Linked DNA regions of Homo sapiens. The protein of the gene in region 1 purifies or fractionates together with the protein of each later gene. This does not show direct contact. Each region holds a gene or a part of one and is shown on either strand. Other genes may lie near its edges.

Region 1 (5,849 bases):
GTAGGGAAGGGGTAAGAGACAAGGTCAGAGAGCAGGCCAGAGCCAGGCTATGCTGGGTATTCCACGCAGTGGTAAGGACTGGGAATTTTAAGTGCAGTGAGATGACATTGGAGGTCTTTAAGCAGAGAATGACACAATCTAAATTCTGGCTATTCTGGGAAGAATGGATGATAGGGGCCAGATTTAGAGAGGTTAAATGAGCAGATCAGGGTTTCACTTCCATCACTAGCGTGCATGCAGTACCAAGACTTGTTTCCATGGTGTCAAGTTTTTGATACCCTGTAGTATGATGCCAGACTGGAATCTCATATTTGACAAACTGGGGCTCCCAACGTCTCAGTGATCTCAACTTCGCCTCCTGTGTCGGTCAGGTGAGGATAATTGCTTGTGGTTGTATGGAAACAGTTACACAGCACATATGTAAACATGCTTTGTATTCATCAGGCAACATTCAACTAAGAGTGTCTACTGTGTGCCACGCTCTTGTAAAGTTGTTCTACAGTGTTAGAAACATATTATCAGAGTAGACATTTGAGAAAAACAATTACCCTGTCTGAGAAAAACAAAATGCCAGCCCTCATTCCTCAAGAAAGGCGAGGCTAGTATGGCTACTAAGTTCCCCTATTCTTCACTCTTCTTGCCAAACTCCATGAAGCCAAATTTTTGAAGAAGCATTTTCTTCTTTGAAGTGGGAGAGGAAATAAAGTAAAGGAGAACAATAGCAGTATTTTGAGGAGGTGGGACATTATAACCAAAGGAACTTGGGATTTGTCCTAATAAGGCCAGCTTTAAGTCAAGGTTGACCTTGGCCATCAGTCCTTGGGTGAGCTTTCTATTTCTAACCTGCAAAACTGGGACAAACTCATCGTCTCTCCGAGGTGGGCAGCCCAATAGTAAACTCATACGGCACTATGACATGGCTATAGCAGTTCATGGAGCCTTTCTTGCTTCTTTGAGCAGCCGAAGGAACATTTAGGACATCCTCCCTTATGTATAAAAGGTTGGGCATTCTCAGGTAACTAAACAAATGGCATTTATTGCTCTTAGAAATCCTTCCCTCTAGAAAGGGGCAAATCAGGTAGAAGTCGTTCCTCCTAAGCTATGAGCAGAAATGACAACCACTTGAGTCTATGATAAACAAGGAAGCCCAATTTCCACGGCAGTCCTCACTAGCTCCATTCAGCCACCTCCTCCAGAAAAGGGCCAGGACCATACCCCTACCACTTTCCTTGCTTTTCAACTGAACCAACAAGACCTGGATTTCTTCTTGTCCAGATGCCTAGAATGTGCCACACGTTGGCCACTCTGTTCTGGGAAGAAGACCAAGGGAACAGATGAAAGCCACAGCCTTGCCAAGCAACGCAGGACAAAGACAGGTCAGCAGGTACAGAAAGAAAAGAAAAAGGCATTAATTGGACAGGAAGACAGCTACTCAATGAGGTAAAAACACTGAGTAGCTGGTGACCCTTTAAGCAGAACTCCTCCAGACACTCGGAGCAAATGCACTGACTGTGAAACCTGTGTGGGGGCTCAGGTACTGCACTAGGAAGACCTTTTCCTCCCTGTATTGGGCGCAGTAGTGTCCCCCCAAATGTCATGTTAATCTGGAACTTCAGAATGTGACCTTACTTGGAAATGGAGTCTTTTCAGATGTAATTAAATTATGATGACATCACATTGGATTAGGGTGGGTTCTACTCCAATGATCGGGTATCCTTGTAAGAAGAGAAAACAGACAGACAGATAGCACCATGTGACAGTGGAGGCAGAGACTGGAATGATGTACCTACAAGCCGAGGAATGCCAAGGATGACCAAGCACCAGCAAATTTAAGAAGGAAGAAGGAAAGATCCTTCTCTAGAGCCTTTTGAGAGTCATGGCCCTGCTAACACCTTGATCTGGGATCTTCAGCTTCCAGAGCTGAAATAAATTTCTGTTGCTTTAAGCCCTCCAGTTTGTGTGGTCCTTTGTAATGGCAGCCCTAGGAAACCAATCCATTCACTACTTCACACCTGTTCCCCAAGCCACCCCTTGCCAATCTCAGCCCAGGGACTGGAGGCAAGACACACAGGCCATGCCTCCAGCCCACCTGGACTCTTCCACCTTCCCAATGCCCCTCAGCCCTTCTCTCCTTGAGGGGAGGGGTGTGCAGGGATCACATTTCAGCTGCTCCCACCCACCTTCTGCCACAGGAGGCAAACCGGCAGGGGAGTTTTTGTTTTCTTCCCTCAGCCTCCCTGTTTTGTAGCCTCTTTCAATTATACAGGTGTTCCTTAAATTTCATTCGGTCCCATTCTAGATATACACATAGATACACGTATTTGGCCATAACCATGTATTCCCTGTACTACCACTTATCTTTATATAGAGTTACTACTTTTACTTAAATTTGTTTTAAAATAAACTGCGACATCATTATTACAATAAATGGAAAATCGCAAACGCAGAGCTTGCTAGATACATACACATTCTTAAATTACACATTAGAATGAATACACAATATTTTTTAAAGACCCCTTCACGTACGGTTTAAAATAACCTAGGGTGGCAATACTATAGGAAACACTGCCTTAGAGGTACAGTGGCTGTCTCTGACTAGTTGGCCCAGAGTTCTGAGCTCCTTATCAGAAAAACCAACTTCAATCTCTCCCATCTCCAGTCTCTAACCCCCGCCCCCCAATTCCGCTCAGACACTCCGGGAGAAGGTAAAGGGTAAGAGGAAAAAAAGGCACCCGGGAGTTCTGAGTTCCCACGCAGGCGACCTGAGAACACGAAGTCGAGACCGAAGGAGACTGTACCCAGTCTTGAGAGTGACAAGGGCAGGGAGGGACTGACCTTCTCGCGCAGGGTGCAGTGGACGTCCGAGGCGACGCGCCCTTCCCACCACGGCTCATCCATCATCGCGTACGCAGCGCCGCTATCCGAGGCTACCCGGCTCTCAGGGCGCACCCTGCGTGGACACGGGCAACTTCAGCGGCCAGAGCGTACCCCGGGCTCCGACCCCCGGTGTCCCTATCCTCTCTCGCCCCTGGCCCCGGGCCCCGGCGGGCGCCCCCTCCTGCGCCGCTCAGAGGAGCTGGAGGTCGCCTCTGGTCCGCGGAAGGCTGCGGTGCCCCCTCCCCTCTGCTCGCCGGACACGGGGCGATATGGAGCTGTGCAACAACTTGCAGAATTTTTATCTTCCCTTTTGCAAAAGTTGCAGAGAAAGTTGTCAACTCCGCTAGCTCGCTCGAGGCTGGGGCTCTGGCGGCGGCCACAGGCTCGCCGTCCCCAACTCCTCCCCCGCCGCCCAGCCTTTGTCCTGCTCCCACATCCTGCCCTCGAGCCGGGGCGAAACTCACGCATCCTCTCTGGGCGTGGGGGGCTGCGAGCGCCGGGCCCCTCCCAGTGCCGAGCCAGCCGTGCCCTCTGGTGCCTGCCGGCGGTTGGACCCTCGTCCGAGGCGCTCCGCACTCCCGACGGCCGCCTCCGCAGCCCGACTAGCCCCCGCCGTCGCCGCGCCCCTGCGTGCGCTCGGGTCCCGCCGCGGCTCGCAGGCTCCCGGCCGCCGGGGGCCTCCCTCCCTCGCTGGGGGAATTGGGGGCCGGGCCTCGCGCATGCGCTGCCGGCGCCCCCGCGCCCCGCGGGGCGGGGGGCTGGGAATTGGAGCCTTTCTTTGCCAGCTCTGGCTCCGCTTCCTGCCCGCCCTCCTCCCTCGCTTCGGCGGAAAGCTTCTCTCTCACCTTCGCTGAGGCTAGTGGTAGCCTTCTGGGCACCCCTCCGGCTTGCGCAGGGAGCAAAGGGACCGCGGCGCCACCTGCGCGCACCACGCGTGAAACGTGCGGACAGGACGCCCCCAGAAAGTTCTGCCTTCCGCGCGCACTGCTCTAGCCATCCTTACGTCGGTTCCACCTGTTTTTCTTTCTCTCTCTCTTTTTTTTTTTTTCCTGTTTTTGTTTTTTGTTTGTTCTCCTCTTCTTTGAAACCCGCCCTGCCATGGGGAGGTAGATTTCCAAACGGACAATTCCAGTGAAAGCTGCAGAAAAACCACCCTTGTTCACCCACGAGTCCCTAATTCTAAAGGAGCCTAAGTCACTGGTATTATTGTGCTCCTGCAGAATATGAACTATGCCTCACATTGGAGGAAAACCAGTCTTTTTTTGCCGGGTCCGGTGGATGGAAAACATTGTCTTTTTAATTCAATTGCTTGCTTTTGGAAAGTCATCCTTTTGAGTCAGCCCATCTGATGGCATAGCATTGGGCTATCCTTCTTGGCTGATTGATTTTTGTGATAGTTTTGGAGATTCACAAATTTGGAATCAAATCCACTTACCAACTGGGTGATTTTTGTCAAGTTCCTCAAACTCAGAGCCTCGTGTGTAAAATGGAAATAAAAGTTAAACCAACCTGCTGAAAATTAAAGGAGATAATGCGTGTAAAGGGATAATCACTACACCAGGTATTAAGTGAACACTCAGTAAACAACTGTGACTGAAGAGCCTTTAGTTTCTGACTGCTTTCCTGCACATAAAGACACACCTGGGAAAAAAAAATTAAATCAGCTTTGATAAGCTTCAATTGGACCTTGAAGAGCAGTTTTAATGTAAAACAAACGAACCATTTTAAAAGTGTAAGATACCTAAAAATAAACTGAATAAATGTGCAGGCTCTTAATGAAGACATTACAAAGGTTGAAACATAATAAAGAAGGCTTGAAGGAATAGAGGCACAAACACCAACTTAACCCAAATTACTCTATTTAATAAAATTTTAATGGTTGTGGGTAGATTGGAGGAGGGGGCACTTAACATGTTTTCTAACCTTCAAATGGGAGAATATCTGCGAGAAAAGCTAAGAAATTTATATTTTAAAAATGGGGGGATGGCGGGGCGCGGTGGCTCACGCCTGTAATCCCAACACTTTGGGAGGCCAAGGGCAGGCAGATCACCTGAGGTCAGGAGTTTGAGACCAAACTGGCTAACATGGTGAAACCCTGTTTCTACTAAAAATACAAAAAATTAGCCGAGTGTGGTGGTGCACGCCTGTAATCCCAGCTACTTGGTAGGCTGAGGCAGGAGAGTCACTTGCATCTGGGAGGCGGAGGTTGCAGTGAGCCGAGATCGTGCCACTGCACTCCAGCTTGGGCAACAAGAGTGAAACTCCGTCTCAACAAACAAACGAACAAAAAAACTGGGGGGACAGACCTGTATTATCAAATCTTAAAGCATATTGCAACACTATAGTTAAAACAGTGTAGTGTTCACACAAGAATGGATGGATTAAGCATCAGTGGAATAACTGAAAGTCTAGGAAAATTTAATATATTTAAAAATTCACTGTATGATAAATGTGGCATTTCACTTTGTTGGGACAAGTATAAACGGCTAAATTATTTAATAAATTAGGTTGGGGGAAAAAAGTAAAACTAAGGACTTGTTTAAATATCACCAAAATAAATATAAGAACTCAGAGAACTACAAACAAGCAAATCACAAGAGGATAAGAAGAAAACATACACGAATTATACGGAGGGGAAGGCCTAGATACTAAGACATGGGAAGAAACCAAAGGCAAGGTGAGTAGACAAATTTGAATAAATATGCAGGATCTAGATACATCAATTATCATTGCCAAAAAGGCAAACGACAAATTTGAGAAAATATTTTTAACAAATGTGACAAAAGGTTGATGCTACTTTCTAGACCTCTGATAAATCGGTATGTAAAACATTAACACCCTACGTGCAGAAATGGATGCAAGACATGAGTAGGTATGCCGTCAGAGAAGGAATTCATATGGATAGATGTTATTTTTAAAATGCTCATACTCCCTAGCATGCAAATTAAAAGCTTTTTTTAAAAAAACAGTGG
Region 2 (4,412 bases), on another chromosome or scaffold:
GGTGAAACCCCGTCTCTACTAAAAATACAAAAAATTAGCCAGGCGTAGTGGCAGGTGCCTGTAATCCCAGCTACTCAGGAGACTGAGGCAGAAGAATGACGTGAACCCGGTGAGTGGAGGTTGCAGTGAACCAAGATTGTGCCACTGCATTCCAGCCTGGGCAGCAGACGGGGACTCAGTCTAAAAAAAAAAAAAAGGAATGTGACTAAGAAATCTTAACTGTTAGTAGCAGGTGACAGGATGACATAGTGGTTAAGAACTTGACTTCTTTAGTTAAAGAACAGAATTCAGTTTGAGGCTATGTGGATTTGAGACAGATTACTTAATCTGTTGAACGCCTGGTTTTCTCATCTAGAACAGAGGTTTCAGTCGGGGCAGTTTTGATCCTCAGAAGTTTGTCATTCAAACATCACATGTTCTCACTTATTTATGGGGTTTAAAAATCAAAACAATGGAACTCGTGGACATAGAGAGTGGAAGGATGGTTACCAGAGGGTGGGAAGGGGAGTGGAGGGTTGGGGGAGAGGTGGGATGGTTAAAGTGTACAAAAAAAATAGAATATGAATAACACCTAGTATATGATAGTCTAACAGGGGGATTATAATGAATAATAACTTAATTGTACTTTTTTTTTTTTTTTGAGAGTAGTCTCGCTCTGTGGCCCAGGCTAGAGTGCAGTGGTGTGATTTCAGCTCACTGCAACCTCCGCCTCCTGGGTTCGAGCGATTCTCCTAACTTAGCCTCCCAAGCAGCTGGGATTACAGGCATGTGCCACGACGCCCAGCTAATTTTTGTATTTTTCGTAGAGATGGGGTTTCACCATGTTGGCCAGACTGGTCTCCTACTCCTGACCTCACGTGATCCGCCTGCCTTGGCCTCCCAAAGTGCCGGGGTTACGGGCGTGAGCCACCTCTCCCGGCCACTATTGTACATTTTTAAATAACGAAAAGAGTGTAATTGGATTGTTTGTAACACAAAGGATAAATGTTTGAGGGGATGGATGCCCCATTCTCCATGATGTGATTAGTTCACATTGCATGCCTGGATCAAAACATTTCATGTACCCTGTAAATATATATACCTGCTATGTACCCACAAAAATGAAAAATTTAAAAATTTTAAAAATCGAAATTTATCATTGTGTAGCGACAACAGTGACAGCAGATTTGGGGTTGCCACACTGGGCAGGGAGGGAGAGGATGCTGCTGGCATCTAGTGGGTAGGGGCCAGGGCTTCTTATAAACATGCTACAGTGCACGGGACAACTCCCAACAATAAGGAGTTATCCAGCCACACATGCCAGTGACACTGAGGCTAAGAAACCCTGATCCAGAGGATGGTGAAAATAATACTGGATGATAAAGTTGTGAGCTTTATTTTACTTTATTTATTTTTTGTATAAATAGGGTCTTACTATGTTTCTTAGTCTGGTCTCTAACTCCTGGTTTCAAGTGAGCCTCGCACCTTGGCCTTCCAAAGTGCTGGGACAACAGGCATGGGCCATCACGCCTGGTCCTGTTGCAGTTTTTAAATGAGATAATTCATGGAAAGAATGATGCATTGTGTCAGTCCTCTTCTCTCTGGTCTCACTCACAGTAAAAGCTGTACTTCTATGAACTGCAAGGCCCTATGTGACCTGGGTGGGCCCTGTTACCCTTTGATTTCACCTTCTACCACTTGTCACCTTGTCCACGCCACTCACCTCCATTCCCCATGCACCTGAGCACACGCCTGCCCTAGGGCCTTTGCAATTGCTGCTCCTGTGTCTGAAACACTCTTCTTCCAGGTGCCCCATGGCACACTCCCTGACCTCCTTCGGCTCTCTGCTCAAATGTCACCTAACTAGGGAGGACTTCCCTGGCCACCCTGTATTCCATAGCAGTAGACTCTGATTGTTAGAGTTTTCTCGGCCCCACACTGCTTGCTTTCCATCTGAATCCACTTAGCCCCTTCAGCCTCTGCTTCCTTTTGGCAGGTCTTGTTCTTTCATCTGCTGTGGAAGGTGAACCACAGTTGTGCATATTTGGCCTGTGAAGTGTATATTCCTCTTTAACAGAGTTTGCAATTTTTTTTTAATATCAAAGGTAAACACGATTGATTTTAGAGATAGAACTTTATACAACCAAACCTTAAGTATCCACACAAACTGACAGAATGCTGTAAATTTAGCTTAGGAATATGCCACTCTGCTTATATTTTAATGGGAAGGTGACTGTGAAGTCCGTACATGCAGCAAGGGCTCCACACAACATAAAGCGGTTGTTAGGAAGGCCTGGACTGATATCCGCTTTCCTGAACTGGCCTCTGATGGCTGAGCAGTGTTCTGTGCCTTGCTCACACTCGAAGATCATGGTCAGGCTGTGGCAGACACTCAGTTAGGGCAGAGGTCCCCTGTTTTCTCTGATTGTAGCTCTCAAGTTCCAATAGAGTCCACATTGGCTGGCTCTTCCCTCAGGTCCTGGCTCATGCATCTCTCAACAGATACTTGCAGAGAATGGCTGCTGTATGCCTGGCACATTCTAGGCTGTGGGCTGTAGCAGTGAATGAAAGGCAAAAGTTCCTCTCCTGGAGTGCCATTGTGAATAGAGTGCTGGGGGATTGAAAGCATCGTGCTTGACTCATCCCTATTTTTAATACTGCTTCTGATGAGACGGTAGCTAGGCAGTTGTAATTTGTCCTTCTTCTCTTTTTCTTTCCAGATGTCCTCAATGGAACCATAACGTTTTTGCCTTTGGAAGAAGATGATGAGGGGAACCTAAAGGTTAAGATGAGCAATGTGTATCAAATTCAGCTCAGTCATAGCAAAGAAGAATGGTAAGAGCTGGACAGTGGACTCCTAGTTTTATGGTTTCCATTGAGGATTTCTTTAGGTAGCCAAAGGATTCTGGGTTGCCAGGGCTTAAGGTCCTGTCTCTGAGGTGGTTATGGTTTGTAGGAATGCAGTTGCTAGCTTATGTGCCCAGGCCATGTTGCTCTTCCTGTTGGTGCCTGGCCTCGAGTCTGGGTGGTCACAGCCTGGCTGGGGTTTCTGATCTCTACCTTCCCTGTGGCTGTGATGATCAGCAGCCCTTAGCATTAGCTCTGAAGTCAAACTCAAATTTCTTTATTGTTATTGTTATTATTATTATTGAGACAGTCTTACACTGTTGCCCAGGCTGGAGTGCATTGGTGCCATCGCATTTCACTGCAACCTCTACCTCCTGCATTTAAGTGATTCTCGTGCCTCAGTCTGCACAGTACAGGCACCCACCACCACACCCGGCTAATTTTTGTATTTTCAGTAGAGACGGGGTTTCGCCATGTTGGCCAGGCTGGTATCAAACTCCTGACCTCAGGTGATCCACCTGCCTTGGCCTCCCAAAGTGCTGAGATTTCAGGCATGAGCCACCAAGCCCAGCCTATTTTGTTATTTTTTATGACTTAGTAATGGGGAATAGGTGATGGTTCCTTCTGTAGTAAGTATTCAGTGATACTTATTATAAAGTAGCGGTTTAATAAGCACCCTTAATTCCATATGGTATTTGGGCCTGTATAGAAAGTATAAAATTTAATTCATACCGTTTGGTATTTTTAAAACGAAAAAGTCAGAGGAGGGGTGAATTCATTCATGACTTGTCAGCTGATATTTTCCTGAGTGCCACATCCAAGCTGTACTTTCCGAAACAGTCTTGGGGATAATGTCTGAGTAACTGGAATGAGTTTGCCCGGGGCTTCCTAGAAAGCAGAGGGATGTGGCGAGAAGAGCATGGGCTTCCCACTAGCAGTGTGGTCTTGGGGATGTGCTCTACCTCCTGGCCCTCTGTCTACTCACCTTGAAATGGGTTTAATCATTCCTGAGCCTCTGAGGAGGTGGCAGGGCTGGGCCTCACATGGATCTGTTGCAGCCTTCGTGCTTGAAAGGGGTGCTCAGGCCCTGTAGCATGAAGCCCTTTGAGAACCATCCAGAGGTTGCCCCGAGTTGTCAGGGGATCCTGCCCTGAGGTCCCTTCCTGCTAGCATGCCCTTGTTGGAGAGTGAGGAGTGAGAGCAGACACTAGGAGAAGCCATGCTTACCTGTGCCAGGCACCTCTGTGCTCGGCGATGCTGAACTGTGTGCCCATTAGCCAGAAAGTGGTGCCTGTCTTGGGGGCAGTGGGCACCTGGTGCAGGGCGGGGTTGCAGGAGGTGCTTGGCATGTGCCTGCTGCGTTGGAGTGACTTTCATTGCTCTTTGACAAGCTACTGAGGACGTGGCTGCTGCTCCCATCTTCCCAGGGTGGCATTTCTAGTCGGCATCGGAGTGACGTTCACTGCTCTTTAACGAGCTACTGAGGACGTGGCTGCTGCCCCCACCTTCCCAGGGTGGCATTTCTAGTCATAGCCTCACCGGGCCGCTATTCCTTGCAGTCTCTGGGCACAGGTCACACTTCAGGG
Region 3 (4,412 bases), on another chromosome or scaffold:
TCTGCAGCTTGGGGGCTGGGGGTGGATCCAGGCTCCTCATGCTCTGGGACCTTCCTGCTGGTGCTGCAGCACCATCTGCTGGGCTGCCCTGACTCCTGCGGAGGGGGAGGAGTGGGGCGAGAGGGGTGTGGCTTGTACAGACTGATGTCCCCAGTTACCTCTCCTAGGGGACTGCTCTCCAGAGCCAAGTCCAGTATCTCAGCATTGGCTTTGGGCCTAGGGACCTGGGCTGGAGGCCCGACTCTGCCATTTTTGACAAGATCAGCAGGTCAGAGGAGTGTCACAAGAAATCTGTGAATTTGTAGACAATACTCAGATTCCATGTTTTGGCTGCAGTGGGCATCACTGTGGCATCTTGGAATAGGACCCTGTGGTGGGAGGCAGGAGGCCTGCTTCTCGTTGTGTCTATTTCATTGGTGACTTTGGGATGAATGGGTCTCCTCATCTGTATATGAGGGGGTGGCGGCAGGGTATGTCAAGTGACCCTGAGACCCAGTGCCCCTACAAATTCTGAAATCCCAAGAAGGAGGGGATCTTGGGAGTTGTATGGAGGAAAATCGAACAGAAGGGGCTCCTGGAGTGGGGATGGGTGGGGGTTCTGTGTAGAATAATTCATTAAACAAAGGGTTCTGCAGCTTAAAATATACGAGTTGGGGTCAGGAGCAGTAGGTGGTTCATGCCTGTGATTTCAGCATTTTGGGAGGCCAAGATGGGAGGATCACATGAGTCCAGGAGTTCAAGACCAGCCTGGGTAACATAGTAAGACCCTGTTTCTACATAAAATACTAAAATGAGCCGGGTGTGGTAGCAGGCACCTGTGGTCCCAGCAACCTGGGAGTTGGGAGAATCACTTGAGCCCAGGAGGTTGAGACTGCGGTGAGCCAAGTTCATGTCATTGCACTCCAGCCCGGGCAACAGAGTGAGACCCTGCCTCAAAAAATACATACACGAGTTGGAAACCTCTGTCACGTGGCTCATGCACTCACAGTCTTAACTGAGCATCATTTAAGCGCCAGGTTCTTAGGTGTAGCCGTGAGCTGATGAGAGCAGCAGCCCTCTGTTGCTTTGCCTGTAGCCTGTTTTCCTGACAGCCCCTGCCTTTCTCTCTCTATCCCAGGTCAGAAGTTGAGTAGCAGGGGCCTAGGAGGGCTCGAAGCCTTCACAGCGATGGCAGAGAAGCGACCCCTGAGAACCCTGGGGCCTGTGATGTATGGCAAGCTGCCCCGCTTAGAGACAGACTCCGGGCTCGAGCACAGCCTGCCCCACTCTGTTGGTAACCAGGATCCCTGCACCTACAAGGGGTCCTACTTCTCCTGCCCCATGGCAGGTACTCCTAAGGCCGAGTCTGAGCAGTTGGCGTCCTGGACCCCATACCCACCCTTGTACTCTACCGGTATGGCAGGACCCCCACTTCAGGCAGACAACCTGCTGACCAACTGCCTGTTCTACCGCTCGCCAGCAGAAGGCCCTGAGAAGATGCAGGACTCCAGCCCTGTTGAGCTCCTGCCCTTCAGTCCCCAGGCTCACTCCTACCCAGGCCCACCACTGGCAGCACCCAAACCTGTCTACCGCAACCCTCTGTGCTATGGGCTCTCAACTTGTCTGGGGGAAGGAGCAGTGAAGAGGCCACTGGATGTTGACTGGACTCTGGCGACTGGGCCCCTGTTGCCCTCAGCTGACCCACCCTGCTCTCTGGCCCCAGCTCCTAGCAAGGGCCAGACTCTGGATGGCACCTTCTTGCGGGGGGTGCCAGCTGAGGGGTCCAGTAAAGACTCCTCAGGGAGCTTCTCCCCATGCCAGCCCTTCCTGGAGAAATATCAGACCATCCACAGCACGGGCTTCCTGGCCTCCAGGTACACAGGTCCTTACCCTAGGAACTCCAAGCAAGCAATGTCTGAGGGGCCCTCAAGTCCTTGGACCCAGCTGGCCCAGCCCCTGGGGCCACCCTGTCAGGACACCGGGCCCACCCACTACCCACCACCCCACCACCCACCACCCCACCCTCCACAGGCCCTGCCTTGCCCTCCAGCCTGTCGCCACCCAGAGAAGCAGGGCAGCTACAGCCCAGCACTCCCACTGCAGCCTCTGGGGGGCCACAAGGGGACCGGGTACCAGGCTGGTGGGCTGGGCAGCCCCTACCTGAGGCAGCAGGCAGCCCAGGCACCTTACATTCCCCCACTGGGGCTGGACGCTTACCCCTACCCCTCTGCCCCTCTCCCAGCACCCTCTCCAGGCCTCAAGCTGGAGCCGCCTCTCACTCCACGGTGCCCATTGGACTTTGCCCCCCAGACACTGAGTTTTCCTTATGCCCGGGATGACCTCTCTCTCTATGGAGCATCCCCTGGGCTTGGAGGGACACCACCTTCCCAGAACAATGTGCGGGCTGTGCCACAGCCTGGTGCCTTCCAGAGGGCATGCCAGCCTTTGCCAGCGAGCCAGCCCTGCTCAGAGCCTGTGAGGCCTGCACAGGAAGCCGAAGAGAAGACCTGGCTGCCCAGCTGCAGGAAAGAGAAGCTCCAGCCCCGGCTCAGTGAGCACTCTGGGCCGCCCATCGTCATCCGAGACAGTCCAGTTCCCTGTACCCCCCCAGCACTGCCCCCCTGTGCCCGGGAGTGCCAGTCTCTTCCACAGAAGGAGGGCGCAAGGCCACCCAGCTCTCCACCAATGCCTGTCATTGACAATGTCTTCAGCCTGGCCCCCTACCGTGACTATCTGGATGTGCCGGCACCCGAGGCCACAACTGAGCCTGACTCTGCCACAGCTGAGCCTGACTCAGCCCCAGCCACCAGTGAAGGTCAGGACAAAGGCTGCAGGGGGACCCTGCCTGCCCAGGAGGGCCCCTCAGGGAGTAAACCCCTAAGGGGCTCACTTAAGGAGGAGGTAGCCCTGGATTTGAGTGTGAGGAAGCCCACAGCAGAGGCCTCCCCTGTCAAGGCTTCCCGTTCTGTGGAGCATGCCAAGCCTACTGCAGCCATGGATGTGCCAGATGTGGGCAACATGGTGTCAGATCTGCCAGGCCTGAAAAAGATAGACACAGAAGCACCAGGCTTGCCTGGGGTGCCAGTGACCACAGATGCCATGCCAAGGACCAACTTCCACAGCTCTGTGGCCTTCATGTTCCGAAAGTTCAAGATCCTCCGTCCGGCACCTTTGCCTGCAGCCGTGGTCCCGTCCACGCCCACCTCAGCTCCTGCTCCCACACAGCCTGCACCCACCCCCACATCTGGGCCCATTGGACTGCGGATTCTCGCTCAACAGCCCTTGTCTGTGACCTGCTTCAGCCTGGCACTGCCCAGCCCTCCAGCCGTAGCTGTGGCCTCCCCTGCCCCTGCTCCAGCTCCATCCCCTGCTCCGGCTCGAGCTCAGGCTCCAGCTTCAGCCCGGGATCCAGCTCCAGCTCCAGCTCCAGTTGCAGGCCCTGCTCCAGCATCTACTTCAGCCCCAGGGGACTCCCTGGAGCAGCATTTTACAGGACTACATGCGTCCCTGTGTGATGCTATTTCTGGCTCCGTCGCCCACTCTCCTCCAGAGAAGCTTCGCGAGTGGCTAGAGACGGCTGGGCCCTGGGGCCAGGCTGCGTGGCAGGACTGCCAGGGTGTGCAGGGGCTGCTGGCCAAGCTGCTGTCTCAGCTGCAGCGCTTCGATCGCACCCACCGGTGCCCCTTCCCCCATGTGGTGCGAGCTGGCGCCATCTTCGTGCCCATTCACCTGGTGAAGGAGCGGCTCTTCCCTCGGCTGCCACCCGCTTCTGTGGACCATGTGCTGCAGGAGCATCGTGTGGAGCTGCGGCCCACCACGCTGTCGGAGGAGCGGGCACTGCGGGAGCTCGCCCTGCCAGGCTGCACCTCACGCATGCTGAAGTTACTGGCGCTGCGCCAGCTGCCGGACATTTACCCCGACCTTCTCGGCCTGCAGTGGCGCGACTGTGTACGCCGCCAGCTGGGTGAGCATGGGGCAGCCCCAGTGGCCACCGGAGCTGTGTGAGCAAGTGACAGGTGTGTGTGCTGTGTGAGTGCGTCACAGCTGGGGCTGAGTGATTCCAAGGACTCCTGCCCGGGTAGGGGGCTTTAGGATGAGCTCTAGGTACCCCCACCCCTTGACCCTCCAGACAATCAGTGAGCACCTTCATAGCCTCTTTTGTAGGCTTCTGAACATGCCAGCTGCTCTGTCCCCATGGAAACTCCTCGGCCTCCCCTGGTGCTGCACCTTCTTGGATTCCCTCCTCCTCTGCCTGTGCCTTCTCCATCTTTGGTGCAGTGTTTCCGGCACTCTGGTTAGGCCCTGTTTTCTAGCTGAGATAATTTCCCTGATCTCCAGCCTAGCATCCCCTTTGTGAGCTCTAGCCCTAAATAACCCACTGCATGCTGGGCCTCAGCCCCTGGGTCTCTCTCCCACACTGAACTCATCCCAAA
Region 4 (4,412 bases), on another chromosome or scaffold:
GATCACAAGGTCAGGAGGCTCACTGCAACCTCCACCTTCCAGCTCAAGCGATCCTCCCGCCTCAGCCTCCTGAGTAGCTGGGATTATAGGCGAGCACCACCATGCCTGGCTAATTTTTTATTTTTAGTAGAGATGCGGTTTCACCATGTTGCCCATGCTGGTCTTGAACTTCTGGGCACAAGAGATCCACCCACCTCAGCTTCCCAAAGTGCTGGGACTACAGGCATGAGCCACCGCACCTGGCCCCCACTCCATTCTTTAGCCTCCATATTACTCTATTAAAACGATTATCCACTGCACAACTACTATAAGCACATTAATAAAGGCCTTAATTCTATTTTGACAAAAGGCAATGGTTGCACCATAGCTTAATATCCACTAGTAGTCATTATTCCTGAAGACTAGTAGTCTTCAGCCCTTAGGAGCAACATTCTACACATAAGTGATTCACAACCAGGGTATCTAACCATGATAATTTTCTATGTCTGCATATGTGTATCACTGTATGTATGTGGGAGGGGGACAAGGAAAGGGGATATAGTCACAGCAAGAGATCCCTATTGAAAGACATTTTGCTGACCAAGAAGTTTTCAATCTAACTCAGAATCCCAACAGTAGTACTGCTTTGTGGAGATAATTACTGAACTTTGATCTACTTCATTGTTCATTCACTTGACATGAATCATTAAATAAACTTTGACATCACCCCAATTCCAACATGACAGATAACAGTAAAGCTTCTGTGTTAAATGTTATGGTATATACCTGCATTTAACATGGCTTAAGGTAGAAAAAAGATAAAACTGAGTTGCAACTGAGAAACCCTGAATAGTGAATAATAAAAAATAACGAAAAACTGACATGACTACTTCTGGAATTTTCCCCCAAACTCCATCAATTTCTATGACTAAAAAAGTCTTACTTTCACATGACATCAACATGTGGATTAAATTCATAGTTTTATATAACAGTGATAGCAGGAGAAAGAACCATGTAGCAGCAAGCAAATATCAGACTTCCCTCTTATAAACTGTGTGATTTTTTTTTTTTTTGAGATGGAGTCTTGCTCTGTCTCCCAGGCTGGAGTACAGTGGCACAGTCTCCGCTCATTGCAACCTCCACCTCCCAGGTTCAAGCCGATTCTCCTAACTCAGCCTCCCAAGTAGCCAGGATTACAGGTGCCCGCCACCACACCCGGCTGATTTTTGTATTTTTAGTAGAGACAGGGTTTCACCATGTTGGCCAGGCTGGTCTCGAACTCCTGACCTCAGGTGATCCACCCACCTCAGCCTCCCAAAGTGCTGGGATTACAGGCATCAGCCACACTGCCAGGCCAACTGTGTGATTTTTAAAGTAAGTTACTTGATCTCCCTTTGTCTTTAGTTTTCTCATCTGTAAAACACAGATAATACTGTGTTTTCAGAGTTAAATAAAATTATATAATAAAATGCTTAGCATATAATAGCGATTTTAAAATACGTTTCCATCCAATTATTTTTCCTTTTAAAAAATGTTAACATCACCCTGCCTTGACCATTGTTGAAACAAGCATCAGTATGTTGCTACCATTAACTGTGCACAGTGGCATGCATCTGTACTCCCACCTACTCTGGAGGCTGAGGCAGAAGGATCCTTTGAGCCTATCAGGTCAAGGCTATACTGCATTACGATTGTCTCTGCGAATAGCCATTGTATCCCAGCCTGGACAACACAGCAAGACCTCATAAAAAACAAAACAAAACAAAAAAAAAAAGCCACCTTAGTCTGGGCGCAGTGGCTTACATCTATAATCCCAGCACTTTGGGAGGCCGAGGTGGGTGGATCACTTGAGGTCAGCAATTCGAGACCAGCCTGGCCAACGTGGTGAAACACTGTCTCTACCAAAAATACAAAAATTAGCCACGCGTGCTGACAGGCACCTGTAATCCCAGCTACTTGGGAGGATGAGACAAGAGAATCACTTGAACCTGGGAGGCAGAGGTTGCAGTGAGCTGAGATCATGCCATTGCACTCCAGCCTGGGCAACAGAGTGAGACACCGTCTCAAGAAAAAAAAAAAAAAGCCAACTTATTATCAATAAGGACATGAAAAGATACTCAATATCACTAGTCAACCTACTAGAATGGCTATAACTGGAAAAAAGGAAAACAACAAGTGGTGGCAAGGGTGTAGAAAAAGTGGAACCCTGATACTTTGCTGCTAAGGGAATGTAAAATGGTACAGCCACTTTGGAAAACACTTTAGTGTTTCTTCAAAAAATTAAATATGGAATTACAACAACCCAGCAATTCCACTCCTAGATATATACCCAAAAGAACTGAAAATAGGAGTACACTAATACTCATAGCAGCATTGTTTATAATAGCCAAAAGGTGAAAACAAATGCAGTATCCATCAATGAATTAATATACAAAATGTGGTACATTAAATATGATTCAGCCATAAAAATGATACATTCTACAACATGTATGAACCTTGAAAACATTACGCTAAGTGACATAAGTCAGACACAAAAGGCTAAATATTACACGATTCCAATCACACGAAAGATCTAGAATAGGTAAATTCACAGAGACAAAAAGTAGAGGCTGGGCACAGGGGCTCACGCCTGTAATCCCAACACTTTGGGAGGCCAAGGCAGGTGGATCAAGACCATCCTGGCCAACATGGTGAAACCCTGTCTCTATTAAAAATACAAAAATTAGCTGGGCGTGGTGGTACATGCCTGTAGTCCCAGCTACTCGGGAGGCTGAGGCAGAATTGCTTGAACCTGGGAGGCAGAGGTTGCAGTGAGCTGAGATCGTGCCACTACATTCCAGCCTCCATCTCAAAAAAAAAAAAAAAAAAAGTAGATTAGTGGTTACCAGGGGCTGGGTTGAGAAGAGAATGAACAGTCACTGCTTAACAGCTACAGAGTTTGTTTGGGATGGTAAAAAATACAAAAAATACAAAAATACAAAAATTAGCTGGGCATAGTGGTGCGTGCCTGTAATCCCAGCTACTCAGGAGGATGAGGCACGAGAATCGCTTGAACCCAGGAGGAGGAAGTTGCAGTGAGCTGAGATCGCGCCACTGCACTCCAGCCTGGGCGACAGAGCGAGACTGCATTTCAAAAAAAAAAAAGGCATTAGAAAGTCATCGTCTTGATCGAAATCTTCATATTGTTTCCCATTTTCAACAAACTTAATTCTAGAACCTTGCAGGTTTGACCATTAGCAAAAATTAGTAGTTTACATAAATTTAAACATAGGGGAAACTAGGTGCAGGGTTTAAGGGATTTCTCTGTACTACAATTACAAATTTTCTGTAAATTGGTAACTTCATGATTTTTCTATAAACTTTCTAAAAAAGTTTATTAATAAAAAAGAGACATGTTATTGAATCTCAAAAGTGTTATGCTAAATGAAAGAAGCCAGTCTCAAAAGGCTATATACACTGTGTGATGCCAATTTATATGGCATTTTGGGAAAGGCCAAACTATAGGGATAAAAAACAAATGAGCTGTTGCCAGGGAGTGAGGGGTGGGCTGAAGGGATTTACTTCAAAAGGGCATAATTATGGAAATTTTTGGAGTGATGGAAATATTCTATATCTTGTATCTTAATTGTGGTGGTGGCAGTTACACAACTGTCACTGTTTTTTGTAATTCATCTGTTTTAGCAGAACTATACAGAACTTTACACCTAAAACAGATGAATTTTACTAAGTGTAAATTATACCTTAATAAGTATGACTTTTCAAAAAGAATCCTTAACAATGGTAGTATCATGTCATACATTTCAATACACACAGAATTCTAGCCTGATAAATGTCATTATGAGATCTAGTCAGATGAAACTAGGCGATTCAAGCCGGGCACGGTGGCTCATGCCTGTAATCCCAGCACTTTAGGAGGCAGATGTGGGCGGATCACTTCAGGTCAGGAGTTCAAGACCAGCCTGGCCAACATGGTGAAATCCCGTCTCTACTAAAAACCCAAAAATTAGCCAGATGTGGTGGCAGACGCCTGTAATCCCAGCTACTCAGGAAGCTGAGACAGGAAAATCGCTTGAACCTGTGAGGCGGAGGTTGCAGTGAGCCAAGATCGTGCCACTGCACTCCAGCCTGGGTTACAGAGCGATATTCTATCTAAAAAATAAAAATAAAAAATAAGCCTTGAAAACCCCTCCCTAGGCCTGGTGTGGTGGCTCATGCCTGTCATCCCAGCACTTCAGGAGGCCGAGGCAGGCAGATCATGAGGTCAAAAGATTGAGACCATCCTGGCCAACATGGTGAAACCCCATCTCTACTAAAAATACAAAAATTAGCCGGGCGTGGTGACGTGTGCCTGTAATCCCAGCTACTTGAGAAGCTGAGGCAGGAGAATCACTTGAGCCTGGGAGGCAGAGGTTGCAGTGAGCCAAGATCGCACC

The links. Proteins that work in one complex are often made in the same cells at the same time.
Region 2: the proteins of CCNJL (region 1) and TRMT44 purify together in Homo sapiens (affinity purification with mass spectrometry; 3 studies listed by BioGRID and IntAct, with this or other methods). This does not show direct contact.
Region 3: the proteins of CCNJL (region 1) and C15orf39 purify together in Homo sapiens (affinity purification with mass spectrometry; 3 studies listed by BioGRID and IntAct, with this or other methods). This does not show direct contact.
Region 4: the proteins of CCNJL (region 1) and PIK3C2A purify together in Homo sapiens (affinity purification with mass spectrometry; 3 studies listed by BioGRID and IntAct, with this or other methods). This does not show direct contact.

What each region holds. Positions count from the first base shown.
Region 1 is NC_000005.10:160,309,023-160,314,871, forward strand, and holds the start of CCNJL (cyclin-J-like protein), read right to left. Parts: upstream 3,543-5,849; 5' UTR 3,342-3,542; intron 2,951-3,341; 5' UTR 2,902-2,950; coding exon 2,836-2,901; intron 1-2,835.
Region 2 is NC_000004.12:8,443,777-8,448,188, forward strand, and holds part of TRMT44 (probable tRNA (uracil-O(2)-)-methyltransferase), read left to right. Parts: intron 1-2,699; coding exon 2,700-2,814; intron 2,815-4,412. UniProt on the Homo sapiens protein: Probable adenosyl-L-methionine (AdoMet)-dependent tRNA (uracil-O(2)-)-methyltransferase.
Region 3 is NC_000015.10:75,204,882-75,209,293, forward strand, and holds part of C15orf39 (uncharacterized protein C15orf39), read left to right. Parts: intron 1-1,117; 5' UTR 1,118-1,167; coding exon 1,168-3,943; intron 3,944-4,412.
Region 4 is NC_000011.10:17,197,075-17,201,486, forward strand, and holds part of PIK3C2A (phosphatidylinositol 4-phosphate 3-kinase C2 domain-containing subunit alpha), read right to left. Parts: intron 1-4,412.